Regions from separate parts of the Homo sapiens genome. Here region 1 is linked to region 2. A link means that fine-mapping ties the variant in region 2 to the expression of a gene that starts in the linked region. Tissue or cell type: tibial nerve. Region 2 holds a variant in brackets; the other region holds the start of a gene. All regions are shown on one strand. Distances are between the middles of the regions.

Region 1 (4,123 bases), 22 kb before region 2:
TGGTCCTTCAACTCTGTTCTCTCCTGAACATGTCATTTTGGCTTCTTTGGGATATGCTCCCATTGCCTCTGCAAAATTATCCCTTCCATCTGGTGGGTGGCAGAAGGGGAGAGAGGAATGTCTGAGCCTTTTCCTTGGAGCCAGAGTTCCCAGGGAGTGGGAGAGGAGACCTGCAGGCGTTGTCCCTGCAACTGCTCACTCCTGGTTGATTCGGGGATAGTGGGAGCAAGGGGAATGGGGCTGCTGTGTGTTGGGGGAGAGAAAGGGCTGAAAGCATGCGGTCCTTTGAGTTCAAGGGGCTGGGAGAGAGTAGGAGAAGAAAGGAGAAAGGAGTGGTCTGTTGAGAGAGAAGACTGCCAAGCCGGGGGGCCTCTTTCCCTTGGCCCTGGGACAGTCTGGCCTTCCACAACCCCAGAGGGGGCAGCTCAGGTGTCTCGGATCAGATGTCCCCATCCTTCCCCAGGCCTAGGGGGCTGGACAATGGCCCCTGATCGAATGACATCCCAGTTCTTCAATGGGGCCCTTGTGAGTGTCATCTGAACTCCGGACCTGAGAAGCAGTTGTCACAGAGACATGGGGGAGATGGAACCCAAGCTGTGGCTGATGAGGGGATAAGGGGTGCTTGAGGGAGGGGTGCTGGTAGCTTGATTACCTGCTCCATGCCAGAGGGGCAGCTGGAGGTCACCTGGAGCCCTAAAGCAGCCTGGGATTTTACGTGGTGGCAGTTCTGAGAGGACTTGGGGGCAGGGGAGATGGGGAAACAAAGAGGTAAGAATGGGGGGAAAGAGGAGTCAAGAGGTCTGGGCCAAAAATGGGAGGAGGAGAAAGGGGAGGTCCTGTGGAGGTCGAGTTGGGAAGGGGCACAGCACCCTACATCTCTGCTTCCCCATATCATGGGAGCTTTGCCCTGCCACCCCCAGACTCCCCCGGGACCTGAGCTCTTGGCAAGGCAGGGTGGGGGTGGCAGAGACTAAGGCTGGCAGGAGAGGTGGGGGCAGAAACAGCTGTTGTATCTGCTCTCTTCTTACCCCACAGGAGGCGAGGCAGGGGAGGGCTGGGACCCTTCCCAACACCTGGGAGACAGAGGGGGCCTTGGCAGGGACTTGAGGGCTCCCTGTGGGAGGGCCAGGCGGTCAGGAAGCTCATGGTGGGTTCCCCACTGGCTTCCTCCTTTGCTGAGCTGCCAGCTCTCTCTCCGACCTTCAGTTCATTTGTCTCTCATCACCACCTTCCAAACCCTGTCTCCCCCAAATCCCAAACTGCCCTCACCCTGACTGACTCCTCCCAGATCCTCAGTGCTCCACAGTGCTATGGTCCCCAGCCTCTTGGAGCCCTTCTGAAGACCCCTCTCCCTGAAGCTGGCAGGCCAGGGACTAGCCCAGTGGGGCAGGGTACTCACGGTTGGCCTGGGCCTGAGGTGGGAGCAGGTTCTGGACAGATGGCCAAGGTTGCAAATGTGGCTGCTGGAGCTGTGTGTGGAGACCTGTCTTCAACAGTCCCTCCCCCGCTGACCCCCCCACCGACTCCACCCCTTCACAGACGAACACCCTGTGGGGCAAGGGGCCAGGAGCAGACAGAGGCGCCCTCTGTCTCCTGGGCTGGAACAGGCGGCCCTTGTCTCTTTCCCAGCCTTGCTTGCCCCGTTCCTTTCTCTCCAGGCAGCAGTGGATGGTGCAGGGGAAAGAGGTGGGAAGGAGGTCCTGGGAGGGACACTGGATGTCTTACCCCAAGCTGGGCCTTGCAGTACCTGTGGCTGGCTGTGCTGGTTGAGCCCGGTAAGGGGGGAATTCTGCTGAGGGGGTCTTAGTCTGTGGCTCCTCCATGGGGCCTCACTGAGAGGACCCTCAGTGAGAAACTTAGTCTTGGGAGTCTGAGAACCCACAGAGGGATTTCAATCCAGGACTCTTCTCTGGGGGTCTCAACCTGGATCCCCCTCTGTGTGTGGGGCCTCAGCCTGGGGTTCTCTGAGGGATCTTGGTCTGTAGCATCCTTTGTGGGATCTCATTCCAAGGGGCCTCTGTGTGTGTCTCAGATTGGGCCTCTCAGTGTTGAGCTCCCTTGATTGGTTGCCTCCCTCTTCCCCCCTCAGCATACACACTCCTGATTAGACATGGGTATGGTGGCAGCAGCCCCCAGTATTGAGAGGACTAGGACCCTGGGACCCCTGCCGAACGAGATCTGTCCAGGCAGCTCCTCTCCCTGACCAAGTGGGGGCGCTCGTGTGGCTGGCAGGGAGCCCGGGTCCAGACCTGAGGGCTCAGGGCAAGCGGCCTGATTGGGCTGTCTCTGGTCTTCAGAATCGACCACGGAAATTTGACACCTCCGGGCTTGGAAGCAGCTCTCTCCTCCTTCCCCGCTGCTTATAAACCTCAGCCCTGAGGCTCCAGCTCACTCTACCCCATCTCCTTGCCGGGTGAGTCTCATGGCTGACCCTGGAGGGAGGCTGGAGATCATTTTTTCTTCCTGGGCTCCCAGGTCCCTCCCCCAGAGCCAGCTCAGACAGGAATTCAGGAAGGAGCTTTGGATGATCGAGCAACAGCGCGTGCAGGAGTGTGTGACGGGGTGGACAGAAAAGAGAATGCCTCTTCCAGCCCCACCCGCCGCACCCCAGGGGGTTGTGAGTGCCTGTACTAAACCCGTCCTGGAGCAGGGAGTCAGAGACGCCCCGTTCCAGGACCCTTGTCACCGGGAGACAGGAGCGGGGAGGATCTGTGGGGTCCTGGGTTCAGCACTCTGCCCTGCTGCCGCTGAGGAGAGGTAAGGGTGGAGCGGGGCAGAGAAAATGGGTCTGTTCAGACGGAGCCAGCTCTGACCACAGGGGACATTTGCCAGACCCTGTGCTTCTCTGCTGGGAGGAGCGGTTAGAGTGTGTGTGGGCGGATGCGAGTGGCCGGAGACCAGGGCCCAACATAAACAAGCTTTGGAGACAAACAACCTTATGACCTGTGAGTCTGGGTGAGACAAGAAGGGATTCTTGAGACAGACACGCCACAGAGGGGCCACCAGACTTGAAGGACTCCAAGAAGGACCTTCAACTGAAGACCTCCTCTCAAGTAGAGGGGTCTCCAGATCGAGGGATCACCACAGAGGGGTCCCTAAGCCACAGACATTTAAAAAGGATCCCGGATTGTGAGACCTACAGAAGAGGGGGTTTCTGGAGCTGAATCTCCTGCCCCCACCAAAACTGAGATGCCGTTGCCTGGTCTGCTGCCCCAAGCTCAACCCCTGTCCTCTCCCTCTTTCCCCATATGCCCCCTCCAGGCTGAGACTGATGTGATAACACCAAGGCAGGGACCTTCTGAACCATTCCTGCATCTTGGGGCTCCCTGACTCTCCCTCTCTGCTCCTTCTCTCTTCCACAGGTCAGCCCTGACAAAGGTCAGCTAGCCCCTTGAGGACATCAGCTTTGGCCTCAGGGTCCTAATGGCAGCAGAACCACTGACAGAGCTAGAGGAGTCCATTGAGACCGTGGTCACCACCTTCTTCACCTTTGCAAGGCAGGAGGGCCGGAAGGATAGCCTCAGCGTCAACGAGTTCAAAGAGCTGGTTACCCAGCAGTTGCCCCATCTGCTCAAGGTAGGCAGAAGTCTGGGACTGAGATTTTGTGAGATGATGATTATGGGACACTGTGTTTAGGACGTGATGGTGCCGAGTACGGTGAGGTGACCACAAGAAAGGGTGTGGGTGGCTGCATGTGTCAATGGTTGCAGGTTTTCTTTTGTTTTTTCGAGACAAAGTCTCACTCTGTTGCCCAGGCCGGAGTGCAGTGGTGTGATCTTGGCTCACTGCAACCTCCATCTCCGGGGTTCAAGTGATTCTCCTGCCTCAGCCTCCTGAGTAGCTGGGATTACAGGTGTGTGCCACCACGCCGAGCCTATTTCTGTATTTTTAGTAGAGACAGGGTTTCACCAGGTTGGCCAGGCTGGTCTCGAACTCCTGACCTCAGGTGATCCACCCGCCTCGGCCTCCCAAAGTGCTGTGGTTACAGGCGCAAGCCACTGCGCCTGACCCGGTTGTGAGTTTTCTTGCCTGGTGTGTACATGTGTGTGTTTGTGTGTCCATGCATATAATTAGGTAAGCAAAGATACTATGTGCCAGTGGGAGTATGGTCTTGTGTCAGAAG
Region 2 (4,123 bases):
GGGTCCTGCCTGGAGTCTCTCTGGGGCTTCCACCATCAGCATTGCTGACCCTGCTTCCTCCCCAGGACACAGGGAACCGGAAGGCTGCGGATAAGCTCATCCAGAACCTGGATGCCAATCATGATGGGCGCATCAGCTTCGATGAGTACTGGACCTTGATAGGCGGCATCACCGGCCCCATCGCCAAACTCATCCATGAGCAGGAGCAGCAGAGCAGCAGCTAGAGACCCCTTTGGCCACACCTTCCAGGCACTGGCCTGATGCCCCGCCCTGGTGCTCTCCCCAGGCTCCCTCCTCAGCCTCCTGCCCACCCAGGGCCCTTTACTCTCTTCTCCCTCCAGACCTTCCTCTGACCCTTGCTGAACTGGGGTCCCTTTGTGAGTGTCTCAGTCTAGAGGTACCTCCCTCCCTGGGGGGTCTCAGCTCCTGGAGTCGCAGGCCCTTGGGGCCCCTCTGTGAGATCTCAATGCTGTCTGGGGACCCTAAGAGTTTTCTCACCTGTTCAGTCTCATCTAACCTTCCAATGTCTGATGTTCCTGCCAAATTCCTGCCTGATTCTGGGTCCGTCCTGACCTCCAAAGGTCAGCTTGGTGCTTGAGGTCTCCCTGCTCTTGGTGGCAGTGGTAGCAGCAACAGCAGCAGCAGCAGCAGCAGCAGCAGCAGAGACCTCTCCACTTTCCCTTAGCCCCTCTGCTGGGTAGAGAGGCACTTTCAGGGACTTCCCTCCAGCTGCCTCTTCATCTGGGAATGAGCTAAGCAAGGCTGAGCCTCCTCCTGTTGCTTGAAATAATGATGATATAAAGGCTGGATTTGGAGTTTGTATCCCCTGGTCCCTCTGGGATGCTCATTAAAACCTTCCCACTCCTTGGAAACGTTTTATGCTTTGGTGGTCTTAGCCCTTGGGCCCTGTGATAAGAGAGAATCTCACAGAAGAACCTCAAAGGCAGAGCAAGAAAGGAGCCAGAACTCCTAAATTCCAACAGGCACTGTCAGCTGTGGGCCAGCAGCTCCCTCCATCCTCCTCCATAAAGGGCCAAAGGCCTTAGGTCACCATCTCTGGGCCCTTTTAGCCCAGACTCAGACTCAAATTCAACTTCCAGGCACACTGTAAGTCCCGTTTAGTCCTCACTGCAATTCCACGAGAGAGGGACCATGACCCTTAGTCTTTTTTTTTTTTTTTTTTTGGAGCGGAGAGTTTAATAGGCAAGAAGGGGCAAGACGGAAGGGAGAAGGAAGAAGCTCCCCTGTACAGAGACAGAGGGACGGAGGCCCCAAAGCTGAGAGAGGGAACCCCACCTGCCACAGATACCATCTAGGTATATATACAGAGGCTGGAGGAGGAGGAGTCTGATTTGTATAGGGCTCAGGGGATTGGTTTGACTATGCGTGTCATTCACGTAGCCCTCGGAAAAAGCTGGCCCTCACACCCTAGCCTTTTTTTTTTTTTTTTTTTTTTTTGAGATGGAGTTTCACTCTTGTTGCCCAGGCTGGAGTGCAATGGCGTGCAATCTCGGCTCACCGCAAGCTCCGCCTCCCGGGTACAAGCAATTCTCCTGCCTCAGCCTCCCGAGTAGTTGAGAATACAGGTATGTGCCACAATACCCCGCTATTTTTGTTGTATTTTTAGTAGAGACGGGATTTCTCCATGTTGGTCAGGCTGGTCTGGAACTCCTGACCTCAGGTGATCCGCCCGCCTCGGCCTCCCAAAGTGTTGGGATTACAGGCGTGAGCCACCGCACCTTGCCCCACCCTAGCCTTTTAATATGCAAATGCAGGTCTACACACCTGGGGATATGTGAGGGCAGCCACATTGCCAGGAACATGTGGGGAAAGGGCAAGAAGGCCGGGGGAATCACCATGTTTGGGTGGACCCAGTTTCTAAGGGCTTGCATTTGCATATCAAAGGTTGCCAACCTGGCTCTAAGAGCCGGGGCTTTACAAGAAACTTTTCTGGAGATGCTTCAAAAAAATGAAAACTCCAGCCTGACCAACATGTAGAAACCCCGTCTCTACTAAAAATACAAAATTAGCCGGGCGTGGTGGCGCATGCCTGTAATCCCAGCTACTCGGGAGGCTGAGGCCAGAGAAT[C/T]GCTTGAACCCAGGAGGCGGAGGTTGTGGTGAGCCAAGATCGCACCATTGCACTCCAGCCTGGGCGACAAGAGCAAAACTCCGTCTCAAAAAAAAAGAAAAAGAAACAAAACAAAAAACTTCCCAAGGACCCAAGGACCCATTTTCCTCTCTATCTGCCTAAAATAATTTCTTAATAACTCCTACAACATTCCCCCCTGTGGAGATGCCACACTAACTGCTGTTAGGGAGTTTTGGGCGACGACTCCTTCTGGCTACTTCTTGTTGCAAAAGGGCGTCGAATGGGGAAGAGCAGCTAGGGCTCCTCCTGGGGTCAATCTAAGGGTCCTCAGAAGAATGATGTGTCTATGTGTGGTTCTGTTTACAGCACCATTTGGAGTTTGATTGCTTCTAGATGAGAAGAAACAATTTGAGTTATAGTATTGTGTATACAGGGTCCAAATATCAATACAAGACACATAAGCAAGAGAGGGCTTAATAAAGGGGTTAACCAATTCCATAAAGAAGACTGGAATTTATTAAAGAGGCATTGTAGCCACTCGGGGATCAATAATTTTGATTTGATTTTTAAGTACTTGTAGATTTTCTTTTAACTAGAGGCATTAATCCGAAAGCAGCATGTTTCATTGAAAACTGCATCACTAAACCCAATAAAAAGTCCTAGCAGATTCAGTGGTAGTAAAACTTTTATGCTTCCTTTTCATTAGTAGCTATTATCCCTGCTATAAGGATAATGATTAAGCAAAATATGACAGCAATGGAAACTCTCTGTTTAATATTTCAGTTAGAAGGTGCTACCATGTATAATCCTATTGCAAATAATAGAGTGAGTATAGCTATTTCCATAAGTGTGGTGTGGTAGATAATTTCCATCTAAACTTTTACCTGTCAAGATATAGAATTCCCCTTTGGGGGTCTATGAAGTTCCTTGGTTTTATTTTCCTAAACGAAGAAACCTCTGGGTTATGGGCACCCTACTCACTTTTATTACCTGGTAGAATTTGCAGAATAATTGCCCAGAACTAATATATTGATTCAGATTTTATATTACCCATCCCTTAATTTTTCTTCCAAGCTGCAGGAGATCACTGCTTGATTCACAGGAATAAGCAGGGTTAGTCTAAAATGTAGGCGAAAAGCTTGAAAACAAAAACAAAAAACAAAAAAATGTATGATAAGCTTTGGAGCACAATTTTTCTCTCTAGTCCTCGTTCTTGGTAAAAACAAGTTATGAATAAACTGTAGTCTTATACTTGCCCTGATTATTTGCATAAAGTGCAGCAAGAATGGTTATTTGTACACAGGCCTTTTGATTGGCTTTGATGAAACTCTGTTTCACAAGGAATTTCAGATAAGACTATTAAAGCCTAAAGTTTGTATTTGAGGATACAAACCTCAAATACCTGTTAGTTGGGTGATCCTCTCCTCTTGAGGTCCCAAGATAAACTCGGAGCTCCCAGACGTGTTAAAAAATGACATTCTTTACTGACTACAGATTAGGAACCCTGTCCAGAGACTGTGTAGACAAGGTATGAGGCCAGTTCTCCCAAAGCGGCTTTTATTGGCTCTGCTTGTCAAGCTTGATTCAGATAGTTTCCAAATTCTAGAGGAACCAGGCAGAGAAATAAACATGCTCCAAATTTTGTTCATAGGAGTACACCTTACTCAATTATTAAAGGCCACAAATAGCTTAAAATAAGTTTCCTTGACTCAGTCTGATGAACGAATTTCCTTTCCTGGCCAACGCACTAAAATGATACGGCTCTGATGAGTGGAGGAACACCAGGGTTCTTGGTGCTCATGCCAGTTTAGATAAAACGACATGGACACACGTGGAGTGGTTTTAAGGAGCGGAGAGTTTAATAGGCAAGAGGGACAAGAAGGAAGGGAGAAGGAAGAAGCTCCCCTATACAGAGACAGAGGGAGGGGGGCTCCAAAGCCAAGAGAGGGAACCCCCATGACCCTTAGTCTTGAGCCATGAGTGGCACTGAGGCTCTGAATTCTCATTAGTAGACTATCCCGATACAGACAGAAG

The links. PIP is the estimated chance that this variant, and not a neighbour inherited with it, causes the effect. A credible set is the group of variants that fine-mapping cannot tell apart.
Region 1: S100A13 starts here. The variant in region 2 is the best candidate, but not a certain one, in a credible set for the expression of S100A13 in tibial nerve (GTEx, PIP 0.53).

What each region holds. Positions count from the first base shown.
Region 1 is chr1:153,625,773-153,629,895 of GRCh38, reverse strand. It overlaps S100A13 (S100 calcium binding protein A13), which reads left to right and starts at 2,391. Exons shown (of 3, transcript NM_001024211.2): 1 at 2,391-2,413; 2 at 3,363-3,576. The coding sequence starts at 3,424. It overlaps S100A1 (S100 calcium binding protein A1), which reads right to left and starts at 1,462. Exons shown (of 3, transcript NM_006271.2): 1 at 1,400-1,462. RefSeq lists enhancers at 494-1,317, 2,144-2,969.
Region 2 is chr1:153,603,635-153,607,757 of GRCh38, reverse strand. S100A16 (S100 calcium binding protein A16) reads left to right here. Exons shown (of 3, transcript NM_080388.3): 3 at 66-872. The coding sequence ends at 224. Among named protein-coding and RNA genes, the nearest start is that of S100A16, 7.4 kb to the left of the region's middle. RefSeq lists an enhancer at 1,773-2,728. The variant C/T (reference allele first, on the strand shown) is at 2,090.